Linked DNA regions of Homo sapiens: region 2 is linked to region 1. The links come from fine-mapping of genetic effects on gene expression. Tissue or cell type: whole blood. Region 1 holds a variant in brackets; the other region holds the start of a gene. All regions are shown on one strand. Distances are from middle to middle.

Region 1 (8,169 bases):
TCTCCACATCTTCAGCATTAAATATCATGCAACCAAATGTAAGGGTATGGTTCACAGCAGTTGGCTGTTTCAGCTGGTTATTAATAGGAAGGCGAAAGATCATAGAAAGTTGACTCCTCCCTCATCATTTCTGTCTTCCAGTGAGAAGAGGAGAGCACGAACAGCAGGAATTAGATTTATATATTTTCCTTAATATAAATTCACAGTATGGTAGATTGCAGACAAAGTCTGAATCCAGGATTTCTAGACTTTCTATGTGTCTATGTGTCACTAAAAGGGAAAAGTACCTGGATTGTAAAGTATTCCAACTAGAAATAGACCAAGGGAATGCAAAGAGGGGTAAGAAGGTTGAATTTATCTGCCAGAAATGTAAATCCTGGTCAAAAAATCCAGATGAATATTTTTTAAGTAGGCAGTTATAGTTCAGTGAAAAAGAGAGTTGTGGAGCCAGAAAGCTGGAGTTTGATCATAGCTCTACCACTCTCTAGCCAAAGGATCGTGGTGATGTTATTGAAACTTGTCTCTAGCCAAAGGATCTTAGTTATGTTATTTAAACCTGTGTATTAAACTTCTTTATCTGCATGTAATATGGGAATTGAAAAACAAACAACAAAAAAACAGAAACAAAATAAAACCTGTCTTATTGGTTGGTTCTGACAATGAAATTTGTTAATATTGTAAAATTCTTAGAACAGTCCCTAGTCTATAGTCAGCAGGCATGAATGCTAGTTATTATTATTTAAGCCCTTGAAAGTAGTAAGTGATTTCCCTTACCTTTGTATTTATGGTTACAGGATGACACTTCTGTGGTGTGTAGTGAGTCTCTACTTTTATGGAATCCTGCAAAGTGATGCCTCAGGTAAGTGAATGGCTTTTGACAATGTATTAAAATGCAAGTCATGCGTAGGGTAATGAGTCCACTCTTCCTGAAAATGAATTTAAATAAACATAATGTTATTCATGTCCATTGTCTTCTGCGGTAGCAAATAATCATAAAGCAGAATAATAGAATTTTGATGATGGAAAGAACCATTGCTGTCTCTAGTCTTCATGGGATAGAGTACACAGGGGGCAGTGGGCCGCTGTGTTTAAACACAGGTATTTTTCATTACCTTCACACTCAGCCAACTAGAATATTGCTTTTTTCCCTTACCTCAGGTCCTATGGGGGAAAAATGGGAGTGATAATAGCACAATCTGTTTTTCAAATTTGAGCCAGTGGTGGAAAAGTTATCAGTGGTAATAATCCATTGAGATGTTAAATAAAATAATGAGTTTTTGTCATATTGTTTCTATATAGGAAAAAGAAAGGATCTGTCTTTAGACTCATTCTTTCTCTGGATGTTGCTTTATAAGAGGAACCAGCTAAGACCTTTATAGAGTTTGAAAACCAAACTCAGTCATCATGGGCCTGGATCACGTGAAATTAGATATGGAAGAGACTTGCTATTTGAAAGTCCATCTTTTCAGATCTCCTCTTCTTCCCAGAATTATGCCCAGAATCACTCTCTATCTCTGACTATTAATCATTACATTTCAGCCTATGTTTTTGGACTAATCAAATTCTTAGAAAGTTTTTAGTACATAAAACTGAAATTTGTCTCTTTGATTTTAGTATCTAAAACTGAAATTTGTCTCTTTCCAAACATTTACTTGGTTCAACTGTAGGACTGAAAAAAAAAAAAGAAACAAACAAACAAACAAACAAAACAACCAAAACCTAATGCAATGGTTCTCTAATTGTAATGAAGGGAACCTAGAGGTCCTCATTTTATAAAGCTTTTCATGTAAAATTCCCCTGAACACCATAAACCATACTTTACATATCGTTGCTTTAATTCCTTTTCTTTGTGAGAGGGCTTCTGCAATGTTAAGTTAGCTACCATATAACCATGACCTCAGTGTTCTGCAATATATGCCTTCAACTGTTTTTCATATGACATGGATTTGAGCTCTCCTACCATCCTGATCATCTTTTCTGGGTGCGTTTCAGCTTTTCTATGCCACATAAAACATTGTATTAGAAACCAAAAATAGTACTAAAGGAGTGGTATAAGTAGGACAGAGTACAGCTCAGTGCTGAAACTAGCAGTAACTTCTAGCCTTGTTGGCCCTTTGGGGCTTCACAGAGGAATGGCTGTAGATAACCGGAGATGTTATTCGGCTGGGATGCGCTAGGAGACAGCTCCTTGGCTGTTTAGTCCAGCATCTGTCCTGCTTGGTTAGGTGTCGCGTTTGATAGGTGAGTTTCTTGATGTCCTGATTTTCAAATATGTTAAATATAATTCTTGATTTTAGTTTGTTCTTATTTGATTTAGTTCTATGTTTGAATGCTATCTGCTCACAGAGGCTTCCTTGACCATCTTAACTAAAAATCCCTACCAGTCACTCTCTCTCCCTCCATCCTGTTTTAGTTTTCTTTGTAACACTCACATTCCCTGATATTATATTAGCCTTCTTTCTCTTCTCTCCTCCTCCTCCCTCTTCCTCTTCTCTTGTTTCCTCCTCCTTTTCCTTCCTTTTTTTCTTCCTGAACTCCCTGTCCTTCCTCCTTTTCTGCCTCCCTTCTTTCCTTTCTCTCCATCTCTTTTTCTTCCTCCTTCCCTCCCTCTGTCTTGGATTTTAAGCTGCCTGAGGGCAGGAACTTGTTCAGGAACTTTTGTTTGTTATCCAAACACTCAGAATAATACTGACACATAGACACATAGCAGATGCTCAATACATAGGTGTTAAATGGTTGAATACATGTCCCTTTACATCCTTTCCCCTGCCCCCAGACTGTCCAGTTTTATAATGGAACGTGTTTGGGTTCATGCCAGTAATTCATCATGTGGTTTTATGTCCTCCCTCATCCTGAAGGAAGAGGGACAGGTGACTGTGTTACCATTGCTGAAGGATCATGGAGGTTCCAGAAGCTAATGAGTGCTGGTGCCTTCCCAGCAGTCCTGACCATGTTACTTTTCTGAATGACCTTTACTGTAATCCATCCAAGGAGTCCCCAGCCCCCACCTCAAGTGCTGTTGGTAAGAGAGCTTTCTATCCAGGAACTGTGACTCATAATTCTGCCAGGGGAAGCTAACTTCTTGAATAAGATAAGTTCTCATACCAGCCACATTGCGTCACCGTGGGAGCAGGAAACATGTTGTAATCCCCTCAGCCCATCTGGCACGTACTCATTTGCCTTCCTTATGAAGAGGTGTATTGTGTCTGACAGTGATGCCACTTCCTAGTTGGAGGGAGAGGAACAAAAAGGACATGTTGTTGACAAAAAC[G/A]AAAAGAGCAACTGGCTCTGGGCTAGTGGGGGAAGAAAGAAATCATTGCGCATCTTGAGGGATCAACCAACCTCTCTGCACATGAAAGTATTGCCTTTTACAAGGCATCTGTGGATGCTGACAGATTTGTTGGTCTTTCATGAGGCTCTCCCTGTGCTCAGGTTCCCATCTCAACGGAAACACAGGTTGATGTGAGGAACAAAGCAGAAATGTTCTGAAAACCCTAAAGCAATCTACATGCGTATCATATTAGTAAGACATTTATTTTGTTCTGAGTCCTTCCATGTGGGCCTTTTAAGAGAATCCTCAAATATAAAAAAGAAACCATAAAAGCATAAGAACTTAGCGCCATGCAATGTGTTTTCACACGCAGTGAACTGGCCGTGAAGTCATACGATTCTGACTTCCGATCATGATTTTTCTGGTAGCAGTACTGTGATCCCCTTATCCCCTCAGGAATGGGGGAGCAACATTTTCATCTTAGGTGATGATAAAAGCAAATGATTTTTTAAGAAAGCTTTATTTCCCTTTAAGGAATTAAAGCTTGGATAATTATAATAGCGATTCTATAATTATAATGTGCTAGTTATAGTAATAATAATAAAGCTCCCTTTGCTTAAAAAAGCAGTTTGCATTGTACATATTCAATGTCAGTCTCACACCCAAACCATGGGGTAGTCAGAGCTGTTGTAACTACCTTTGTTGGGTAAGACAAGTTAGGATCAAAGTATTTAATTGTATTACTCGAAGTCACACAGCTATACTTAGCATGCTTGTGACTTCAACGAGTTTCTGGATTCCTGACATCCATATTATTTTTACGAAATATGCTCCAGTTGGGGTCTATTAGAATATAAATTACTAAGAAAAAAGATTAAGATCTAAGGGATCACAGGTAATCATTTTGCAAACTGTTGAAGAACCACTCTGTGATAGGTTTCTATGCTTTGTAGGTAAGGTATATCCTTACACGCTTATCCTGCCCCCTCACAGCACTGAAACATTTTCTTCAGGAGGAAAATGATTGTAATACAAAATTCAAACCCAATATTCCTTTTTTTGCTTATTATAGTATTAAATATTTTCACTAATAAACTCGAAGAAGTTCTGTTTGTAAGACTTCGAAATGGAAACTTCAGCTCAATACACGTCTCTTTTGCTGTGCCTCATTGGCAGTGTGTCAGGAAGCTGAACTGTTAAAAGCTGCCTTTGGAGTAGACATAAATTTTGGAACCTGTGATCCCAAGTTGAGGAGGTAATAAAAATAGCACCATATAGAATATAGTGAATTTAAAAAATATTACCATATCAAAATTATTTGCTGGACAAATCACATGAAAAAGAGAGTACACTGCCACCCCAAAATGCAGGCACACACACGGATCTTTGAGAAAGATTTTATTTCAAAGTCAACAGTTGACTGTGTGCCAGGTGCAGGGCTGGATTTCACACACATTATCAGGAACTTCGCAGGAACCATTGTACAGGGGTAGGGGCTGGAGACTCTTCTACCTGTTTGATAGTTTAGGAAATGAAGATCCAGGGAGGTGGCCCAAGTGCTCATGATAGCCTGGCTTGCCTGATAGAGCCAGGCTGCCTTGACTCCAGAAACAGTGCTCTTTTTTATTTTTCCATACTATAATTGCCTTTCTTTAGGACTGTGCTCTGCTACTAGAAGTAAGATCCTCTGATTCCTTTTCCATTATATTTTACAAAATTGGTAGAGAATGGAAATCATCTATCCAATGATTGGGAGTGAATTATACAATGCAAAATAAATAAATAGTAAAAAACACTGTGGTTTCCTAGTAATTGAGAGATTCAAGTTCTGTTTTACTCTGTGACTTGTTTGATGACAGTAAAGGGGTCATTTCATCACTTTTTGTCATTGCATCCTTATTTATAAACCAAGCCAACCAACCAAACAATTAACAAACAATAGCAGCAGATCCCAGTCAATTCCAGTTTCTTGATTTTTATGAAGGAACACTATGCATCATGGACACACACAGGGTATACTCCTATTAGCTACTTAAATTCTTTCTAATAACAATGTTAACAATGATTTCACTTTATTCTAAAGATCATGCGTTTGACCATTTTAGATTGTAGAATCCAGGGTTAGTAAGAGGAATTTCTTATTTTAAGAGGAATACAGTAAAGTTTGAGAGAAGGAAGAGGAAATAATTACCAAATAGAATTCCGTGAGAGCAGAGAAAGTTACCAATCCTATCAGGAGATATTGGGGAAGACTTAATCATTGCTCCTTCCTAGGAAGAAACGCATCTCTTATTTGGGAATGAAATAGTTCAGGGCAACTCAAAAGATAGTGCAAAGGCATTTAGAAGCCAAGCTGGAAAGGTAGGTTGGGAACAAATTATGCAGGACGGGAATTACTTCAGGTAAAGAGAATGTCCACATTTAATGTATTTTGGTTATAGTTGGCTAGGTTTCTTTTCCTTTTTTTAAATTCTGTCGTATTTTTGCAAGGACATACACTATTATTAATTCTATGTGATGGTTCTTTCACCTTTTGGTAAGAATTCAGTTTGTTACCAGCCCCAGTGGCCTCATTTTATTTGAATATCCTTGCTTTAATAACTCCGTGCTCAGATATACTTGTGACATTGTGTCCTGTCCCAGTTGCCCATGGCTGGTCATCCTGAACACTCTTCATTTCTATGTAATTTAGTCCAAACATTTGGAAAATGTATGAAGAATACTGTTTCATTTTATTCTTAGTCCTAAAGGTCATTGGAATTACAGAATTTCACCCTGTTGTCATTTAAATGATGCCTCTCGGAAGCAGATCTCTTCACTTTTTTTTTTTTCTTTAGCTGTGTTTATAGCTTGAAGCACACTTATATTTTAGTTACTTATATTTCCCAAGGGTGGATTTACTGTAGCCTGATTGAAAAGAAATTTAAGTACCACATAATTGGCTTGATACTGAGTTTGCAAATACACAGCTTCTTGTATCACAGTGATAATTCTAAGTTTAGAAAAATGACCTGGTTCTTTTTCACATGGCTGTGTTAGTTAAAGGAAACCAGTATTTTTGTAGGAACTCCTGCATACCGTTGTAGGAAAAAATGTTTGTTTTACAAGAATTTATTCTACCCTTTGAATTACCTTTGTTTTTGCTATCCTTTCCCTCACTCCCCCAACCCTGAATATTCATTTCTACCATATTTTAGGGACCAGATTGCCACCTTAGCAGTGACTCACTACCAAGACCAGTTTCTACCCACTTTTCTTTCACCACTTAAAAAGTTTCTTTTCTGTTTAACTGATTAACTTTTTAGAAAATAAAATATATACCCACCCAGGATAACAACACAATGATTGCTTTATTTTTAAATCCACTGAGTGCTGCCATCTCTCATTTATTTTTGAGGAACAGTGAGAAAATGGATACATTTAACAAATAATTTGGGAACCTCAGTCACCTTCAAGTTACCTGCTATCCAAACCTATAAAAGCTGATGTACAAAATTTTCTGGCTTTGCCTTTGCGTGTTTTAGAGATAGTGGGAATAATGAAAATGCAAGATGACTACGACAATGAGAGAAAATAAATAAAATAATCACTTCCTCAGCAACCTAGACCATATTCTGTTGTGTTTTATGACATTCATTTCTCCTTCTACCATAGGAACCAAAATGCTTGGTATAGCTATACATTACTGGGAAATAAATAGCACTTTTCTGCAGTGTTTGTAGGGTCTGAAATAGTTTAAGGCTCTTATCCATCAGCCCATTTTTTTTTACTTCTGAGATACTTTCATATTTATTTATTTATTTATTTATTTATTTTTTGAGACGGAGCTTCGCTCTTGTTGCCAGGCTGGAGTGCAATGGTGCGATCTCAGCTCACCTCAACCTCCACCTCCCAAGTTCAAGTGATTCTCCTGCCTCAGCCTCCCTAGTAGCTGGGATTACAGGCATTTGCCACCATGCCCAACTAATTCTGTATTTTTTTGTAGAGATGGGGTTTCTCCATGTTGGTCGGGTTGGTCTGGAACTCCTGACCTCAGGTGATCTGCCTGCCTCAGCCTCCCAAAGTGCTGGAATGGCAGGCTACTTTCATATTTTTTTTAAAGTGCTCTTTAAGGTTTATAGTAGTGTTCATTTTGATATGTGCACCAAGATACTGGTGTTTGCGTTTCCCCCTTCCCTTATGTAAGAAAATGTTATGGTCTCTTTGAGATTTGGACTTGCCACCCAGTGCTACCAAGACTGACCAATTTAGTCTATTTGCCAATTACGTTTCCTCAGTGGAACCTTCTCCAGGACCTACTGCATACGTGTAGATACTCAAGAGGAAAGAAAAAGAAAACAGGCACATCGATCATGATTTTTTTTATGTGTGATTTTTTCTGTTAACTATTGCTTTTTATTAATTTATTATGGTGGGTTTTATTTTTTCCTAATTACTTACCCTTGCATAAGAAGTATAACTATGGGCCAGGCACACTGGCTCATGCCTATAATGCCAGTACTTTGGGAGGCTGAGGTGGGGAGATTGCTTGAGGCCAGAAGTTTGAGACCAGCCTGCACAAAATAATAAGACCCTGACTCCACAAAAAAAAAATTAAAAAAATAGCTGAGTATGGTGATGCACACCTGTAGTCCCAGCTAATCAGGAGGCTGAGGTGGGAGGATCACTTGAGACTGGCCGGTAAAGGCTAAAATGAGCTGTGATCACGCCACTGCACTCCAGCCTGGGCGACAGAACAAGACCCTGTCTCTCTCTTTCTCAAAAAAAAGTACAACTATAGTTGAAATATAGACCTTTATTATTATTACTAGATGAGAGATTAAATTGTATTTATCATATGTAAAATGACATTTCGAAGTATTTATACATTGTGGAATGACTAAATCTAGCTAATTAAC
Region 2 (8,189 bases), 53 kb before region 1:
ATAATCTCATTTAATTTAAAAACAGCACTATAATGTATATTATTGTCATTGTTATTCATATTTTTCAGAGAATAAAACTGTGAAAAAAAGAAATTAAGTAACTTGACCACATTATGTAAACTTGATCCCAGGTAGTCGGGCTTCAGATTCCTTGACCTCAATCACTAGCCTGTATTTATTCTATTTTCATTTATAAGGGTCTCTGAAGTAAGGGCAATAGACTCTTTGGGTAAGAGTTTAAGCAGGGACACCAGTGAGGGGAGAGATGGCAATGACTTGAACCATGGTGGTTGTGATGGAGAAGAGGAATAGCGTGGTTGGATTTGAGATGTGTTTTGAATGTAGAGGAAGCAGAAGGTTTGTGGATATAATGTGTACAGGCAATGAGAGAGAGTGATAACTCCAACTTTTTGACCTGAGCAACTGGGTAAAAGACAGTGTTGCTTACAAAGCTCTGGTTTGGTGTGGGGCAGAAATAAAGTTTGAATTTGAACATGTAAAGTTTGAGATGTATTTAAAACATCCAAGAAGGAGATATGAAGGAGGTAATATGGTATACAAAGTCTGGTTTGGGCTTTAGATTTAGATTTGCAAGTTATTATCATATTGATATTTTAGAAGGCCATGTGTCTGTCTGAGTTCCCCTAGGTAGAGAATATAACCACTTCAAGGATTGAGCTCTAGGACACTGGAACCTTCAGAGATCATGAAGAGGTAGAGGATTCAATAAGAATCTGATAAGGAACAGCAGATGAAATACATGAAAAACAAAGAGTCAAGTACGAGAGAGTGTGAAAGAGCAACAGATTATCTGTGTCTAATGCTGCTGATACATGTACAATGAAGACAGAGAATTGATCACCACATTTGGCAAAGTGAAGATCATTACAGATGCTGACTGTGGAGTGGTAGAGATAAATGTCTGAATGGATTGGGTTCAAGAGACTAGCAAACTCCTGATGCGTCTTACAGCTACAGCAAGATAATTAAAGATAACCTAAAAAAAAGGTGGAGGGTAAAAGCTGGGAGAAGAAGAGAATAATAATACCTTTCCAAATACATCAATCAATTGCAAAATATTTTATTGTGCATCTTCTATACATCCAGCAGTATTAGTCACTGACATCAATGAATTTGTAGCTTCATTTATTCATTTAGGCAACTATTATTCATCAAATGTTTAGTATGTGATGGATATTTAATGGGTATAGCTTTAAAATATTTTTCTCAATTGTTAGCATAACATTTTTTCATTTTTAATTATTACGGGTACATAATAGGTGTATATATGTATGGGTGACATGTGATGTTTTGATACATGCATACAATGTGTAATAATCACATCAGGGTAATGACAACAGGGTGTCATCACCTTGACCATTTGTCACTTCTTTGAGGAACATTCCAATTTCACTCTTACTTATTTTAAAATGCATAATTAATTATTGTTGACTGTAGTCACTCTGTTGTGCTATCAAGTGCTGGGTCTTATACATTCCAGCTAATTATATTTTTGCAACCGTTAACCATCCTCCCTTCCCCACAACTCCCTTGCCTCTGCTACTCTTCCCAGCCTCTGGTAACCATCATTCTACTCTCATATCTCAGTTCCTTTGTTTAATTTTTAGCTCCCACGTGTGAGTGAGAATTTGCAAAATTTGTCTTTCTGTGCTTGGTTTATTTCACTTAAATGTAAAAGGAAAAAGAGATGTTTCTATTTCTGTAATCCTAACATATCAACATTTTTTCACATTCCTTTCAATTGGTGTTCATCTCTCCACAACTTTTACTCAACCTTATTTTGTAAGCCTTTTTCTTTGTAGACATATTTCCATAATATGATAGTTATGATGCAAATATTTTATTCTGTGCGTAGACAGCGTTGGTTAACTAATCATTTTCATTTCCAACCATTTATATTGTGTTCAAACTACAATATACTATGAATATTTGTCTATATGATTATTCATCTTAATGTTATCTTCCTTAAGCTATGAGTAGCCCTTCAATGTCCGGGAATATACATCTGGTTCAATTCTGAATTACTAGCATCTGTTTGGCTTCTAGGTAGTACATGAGACTGAGTAGCGGCTGAGAGCATGAACGTCGAGTGTCTCTAGTCTCATTTTGTATTCTCCACTTGTAGGCCTGTAGCCTTGGTCAAGTTATTTAAATTCCCTTTATCTCCTTTATGAACTGGAGATAATAATAGCACCCTCCAGGTTGTATTGAGGGTTACCTGAATTAATATACACAAAGTCCTTATGATTGCACCTTTTTATTTTGTAAGCACTGTGTAAATGCTTCAGTGTACTATATATATATAAAAGTCTGTGCCCAGAATATATTTAAGGAATGAATAATAAATCAGAAAATGTTTTATTGTTGCTTCATACAGGTAACATTTTAAATTCTTTTGGATTATTTTCTCTTTGGTTCAGTGACAATGTTGTGAGCAGGTGCTGGGTCCCAGGTATCCTGAGATAAATAAAAATTTTGAGCAATTAATTTTCATAAGTGATGTCAAGAAGTAAAGTATCATGAACATTTCTATGGCTCCAATTACACTGATATTTCACCTTAGGAACTGAAGCTCCGCCAGGGCAGGGGCAGCCTCTGAGTTTCGTACTGCTGTGCACCTTTAGCAGCACGGGCACCTGCTGGTTTCATTTCCTTCCCACTCACCTGGGCCCTTTTCTTATTTCACATCTTTTTTCTCCTTTTCCTTAAATGCTTTCTCTGAATCTTGATTCTTGAAAATAAATTAGTAGGATTCAGTTAGGTAGGAGGAGGAGAAAAGAAGATGTGATGAGCAAGAAGATGTGCGAAGACTCGTCAGTCTGGTAGGTGGCTTTGGTTAGGGGGTTTCAGAAATGGGGACAGGTCATGAAGGGCCTTGCCAGTCAGGAAAAATCATGAGGCACTAGCAGTAGGAACACAGCAGAAGGTGCCTGAACAAGAGAGATGACTTAATGAAAGCCTTTATAACGCTTCCCGGGATATATTACAGACTACCATCTACAGTGGCAGAGGGCAGCTGAAGGAAGGCTCTTGCAAAAACTTGGGGAAATGGAAATGAATGAAGGCAAATATTTGTTTTGAGATTATTTCCTTCTATGTAACCTATTAGTTCTTTTATTCGTTCCCCATACATGTATTGAGTGCCTACTTTGTGCCAGGCACTGTGCTAGGCAATGGGTATATTACCAGTGGACAATACAGATTTAGTCTTGCTGTCATGTCCTGTTGCTTGCTCATATGAATGTCAGTTCAAGACAGCAAGAGCTCAGGACTGCGGAGATCGCATCTACATCCTGCCGCGCTCTGTGCCGGCACAGGGTGGTTGCGAAAATCGTGCAGTCTGAATTGATTCAAGGCCTTGCAGCATGATTGCTAAATACGTCGAGACAGGAAGAAAGGGCAGGGTGGCACCGATCTCAACTGCGAGAGCACGATCTTGCAATGAGCGCATGTGTGCGCCTCGGTGTGTAGTGAGGGGCGTAGCTTCCCACAGCGCCTGGCAGCGTGCCGAGCTGCGCTGCAGGACTAACCCTCTCCTTTCCCCGCGCGCTCAAGCCCGCACAGGCGGTGGCAGGGAGCCGAAGGGGCCGAGCGCAGCCTTGCATCCGTCCGCAGGCGGGCCCGGCGCCGCGCCTCCTGGCGGCGGGCGGGACCGTCCAGGACGCCGCCCCGCGGCCGCAGCTCCTGGAAGCCCAGAGCGCCGGTGGATCGCGAGCCAAGGCGGCGGGTGGAGCCTGAGCCGTGAGGCCGTGGCCAATCGCGCCGCTCCGGGGGAGGAGCCCCAAAGGGGGAAAAGAAAGTGCGGCGGAAAGTAAGAGGCTCACTGGGGAAGACTGCCGGGATCCAGGTCTCCGGGGTCCGCTTTGGCCAGAGGCGCGGAAGGAAGCAGTGCCCGGCGACACTGCACCCATCCCGGCTGCTTTTGCTGCGCCCTCTCAGCTTCCCAAGAAAGGTGAGTCTCGCGCCGCCGTGAGGGCTCAGAAGTCACCAAGCCGCAGAATCTCAGGGTAGACGGATTCTTAGAGATCCTATCGTTAAACCCTCCTACTTTACAGAAGAGGAAACTGAGGCACAGAACGAGGCAGCGGCTGGGATAGGTCATACTGCTAGTTAGGACTGGAGCCCGGATTCGAACCCAAACGTTCAGAGACCCATCTTTGCTTTGCAGGGATTTAAGTAACGCGGTTGTGGGACGTCTGCTCGTTGCCGCCCCCATCCTCAGCCCTTTGAGGGGTCTACCCTTGTTTTCCTCCTCACCGCCCCCTCCCCGCTACCACCCCCCGCCCCCATCTCCTCCTTGGTTTCTCCAGACCGCTGCTGGAAGCGCCGAGGACAGAAGGAAGCGGTGTGTCCCAGCACGCCCACTCGGTATCACGTCGCTCTCAGCGCAGAGCTGTGACAGCCTGGGAAAATGCTGCTTGCAGCCTCACTCCCTCTTCCCCTGACCTGCTTTCTCAGAAAGATGCCCCTTCAGAGGGTGTCGGACCAGCTTCTGGAGGAGCGCGGGGAGAGAGGAGCGAGGCCCGGGCGCCAGTGACCTCCTATGGTACTGTTTCTTCCCAGCCCCGGAGGAAGCGGAGCTAGTGGCCCTGTGGGGCACAGGGTGCCCCTCACTTGGGAAGAGCTGACTTCATGGAACCATAGAGCCCCTTCCCTCTTCTAAATACTGAGAGGGAGCAAGGAAGCTGAGTTAAAGAGAAAATCACAAACATAAAAGCAAACTTCGGCTGTTTCCTTTAAGAGCTAGCCCACAGCCTGTCTTCCCTCCACCTTCTGGTTGTGAAATTGTGAACCAGGGCGCCACGCGAAGCATTCTGCTGCTCTGCTGTACAGATCCCTGGTTTAGCTACTGGATGAGAAAGAGGACTTGAGTTTTGACTCCAGCTCTTCCATGTATTAGCAGTGTGAACTTGGGCAAGTTATCTCACCTTTCCGATACTGGGTTTTTCTTTTCTTTCTTTCTTCCTTTTTTTTTTTTCCAGCCAAAAAATGGAGATTTATAATGGTCACAATGAGCCCTTTGGGTAGTTGGAAGGATGAAATGGGATCATTCAAGTAGCATGTTTAGCACAGTGCCTGGCCTGGCATCTGGTTGGTTCAAAACCAATGGCAACTATTGTAAATATTGTTACATAGTAACCTTGCAGACAGTGGGTTTTCAGAAAGGTGATTTCATACCATCTTACAGAGGCATTTTAAAAAAATCTGTAAATGTGGTGTCTTTCTTCTTTTGAATTTGAGCAACTCTTTTATAATAAGAATTTTCTGAATGTTGTCCATATGTGATGTGGATCATGGATGCTTAGCTCGAAATGTAAAATTGATGTTTCTCGGTGATATGAATTTCCTACTAGTTTTTAGGTCAAACCTCAGGCCTGTGAACTGCCCTGATCTGAGACATCCTTTATTGACAAAGAGGGTCTTGAAATGGGTGAGAGGCAGAAAGACAAGAAGACAAAGTTGGAAGTTGCAGCTGTGTTACAGATTATTCTAAGCCTTCTATCCTTGCTCTCTTAGGTCAGTCGAGCAACCTTACATTTTTCATCTAGTATCAGAAAACAAACAAAATTCTCATATATTTCTTTTGGATTGTACAGAGATGCTGCTAAATGCAAACCTTTCTGGACACAAACTTGCCTTATTTAAACACGAACACACAGACATTCACATGCCCACACTAGTCTTCCTGTATTATTGGTATTTTAAAGTTAAATGGATTCCCTCCCACACCCTTAACCCTTCTCATGACAATTGATTTTATTCTGATGAACTTCATGCAATAATTTACTACTATCTACTGGCTTTGCCATGCGTCCTTAAATTGAGTGTCCAGCATTTGTAGTTGGCTGCCTCCTTCACAGGCCATAGCATTTGTATGCAGTATTGGTAAGTGCTTGAGAACAGAGTGTGATACATCTTGATGGAAGATAAGAGCCCAGTGGTGCCCACTTAAGTACCTCCCGCACCAAGCATTAGTAAAGGATGGGATCACCTGCTTCTATCAGCTTGTTCCATGTACATGCATTGTGGTGAGCTGGCTGGGATATGACTGAATGTGTGCCTGAGAGACAGGGGCCTTGTGGGGGAAAAGGAAAATGTTCAAAATAAGGTCAGATCATGAGGATGGAAGGGAGATTAAAAGCTAATTCCTTTGGTTCTGATTCTTCAAAGAAAGGTTGGTCAATTATACCCATATCTTCATACAGATTATTACTTGTTACCAAAACCATATATATGTATAGAACTTTAAAATTTCCAAAGTGCATTCTGTATATATGATACTCCTTGTTACTCACAATAGCCCTGGGAGGACATGGCAAGAATATTAATAGAGGAAGGAGCCCAGGTTTTGTGGTCAGACCTACTTGATTTCAAATTCCAGCTCTCATGCCTGAGTAGTTGGGTGATATTGAGCAGTTTATTTAATCATTTGAAGTTTCTGTTTTATCCAGTTCTAAAATGGAAAAAAAAAATGCTTACTTTAAAAATCTGTATAACGAATAAATTCAATAGAATAATGTCAAGTACATGTAGTGAATAGGTGCTCATTAAATGATATCTCTTCTTAGCTAGTCTCAATTTATTTAGAACATAACTGGAATGAGACTCAGAGAAATGAAAAGTTGCTAGAGGTCATGTGTTAGTATGTTTCAACTCTGGGAATACAGTTCACACCTTTTCATGTCTAGTTTAGGGCATTTCCCATCACACTCTGTTTCCTCGCCAATGAGATATTTAACAATTTACTTCAGTTATAAAGTTGACCTTATTTGTCTGGTTATTTCAGGATATCCTTTTTGTTGAAAAGCAGGTATTTTCTTGCAAAGAGAACAATCCTTAAGCACAGTTCTGTAGAGTTTAGTGGAGCCAACTGTCATAAGAGGGTATTTAAAGCAATGGTCTCTAAGACAACCTTCCTACTCTCCTGTGTTGGATGTAATACACCTTTGATTCCTAAGAGAAAGGGTACTAACTAAGAAGACATAAAGTACAGAATTATATCACTCTTTTCTTCCTGTTGTGAGTGGTTTCTTCCCTCTGCCATCCTCATGCTAGTTCAAAGGCTGGGAAGAAGATTGAACAACAAATGTTATGAGTGTCCATGGCATTATTCAACTTTTTTTTTTGACAATTTTGTGGGTACTGAGTAGAGTAGACAGAATAATGTGCAAAGGTGGCATTTGCAGAAAGAGACCACTGCTTCCTGGTGGTGCTGATTACTTGTCTGGAGTTTCACTCCTCCTTGTGGAAAGTGATGGCTGGAGGCTCATGTTGGAAGATGAAGGGATCTGTTTCTGGCCCAGGCAGTGGGGCTGTTCATCTGCTGAGACTTCTCATAGGCCATTAGATTTCTCTTCTTTGTAGCAAGCACACAGGCTTGCAAACGCAGATGTAGAAGGAACATTTTGCTCCTTGCTTTTGGCATTTTGGAGCATATGTTTGCTCCTATAGGTAAGCAGTTAGCATCATCTTACCTGGCACGGTTAGGAAAGCAGAATGTGGCTTGAGGAAATCAGAGGACGTAGAAAAAAACAAAGATTATCTCCAGCCTATACACAGCTTCATTTGTTGCTCAACTTCATCAGGCTTTTGCTGGTGACACAGATGTAGGATCTGGTGAGTCACTGTTGCCTTGCCCATGAAATATTAAAGAGAGCCACCTACTGTGCTCTTTGCCCATTTTGGAAATTGTTCTGCATGGAAAAAAAAGAAGAAGAAAAGAAAAAAGAAACACCAAAGAATAGGAAGGTTACAGAACATTTGGTAAGTGATATTTCGGTGGATAAATTCAGGTTAGCCATTCATTTGCTGCCTTTTTTTTTTTTTTAAATGATAATGCATGGTTTACACTGATAGGGTTGTTAGGAGACATCCCTTTGGTCTGACTTTATTCTAACTCTCTGTAGCAGCTGTGGTAGTGTGGATTTTGAGAGTCTGGCTGAAATCTGAGGCAAGTTATTCTATAGAGATGATCTTTTGGCTCTGCAGCTAGGAAATAGGGACACTGATGCCTGCTTAGAAGCTTAAGTCCCTATTTATTTCAACATCTTATTCATAGAAAACATTTAATAAACACTGATTCTGTCCTCTGCTAACAACTCCTTCAATGTATTAGTCTGTTAAATTACGATCATCATAATTTAACAGGTACTCTTTACTTGTCTCCA

The links. PIP is the estimated chance that this variant, and not a neighbour inherited with it, causes the effect.
Region 2: it holds the start of IL1RAP, and the variant in region 1 is fine-mapped to the expression of IL1RAP in whole blood (TOPMed, PIP above 0.99).

The regions. Positions count from the first base shown.
Region 1 is chr3:190,563,495-190,571,663 of GRCh38, forward strand. It overlaps IL1RAP (interleukin 1 receptor accessory protein), which reads left to right. Exons shown (of 12, transcript NM_002182.4): 3 at 795-859. The coding sequence starts at 796. Among named protein-coding and RNA genes, the nearest start is that of IL1RAP, 53 kb to the left of the region's middle. RefSeq lists an enhancer at 2,363-3,562. The variant G/A (reference allele first, on the strand shown) is at 3,272.
Region 2 is chr3:190,510,247-190,518,435 of GRCh38, forward strand. IL1RAP (interleukin 1 receptor accessory protein) reads left to right here and starts at 3,839. Exons shown (of 12, transcript NM_002182.4): 1 at 3,839-3,973. RefSeq lists enhancers at 3,186-3,275, 4,028-4,529, 4,530-5,029 and a silencer at 3,426-3,775.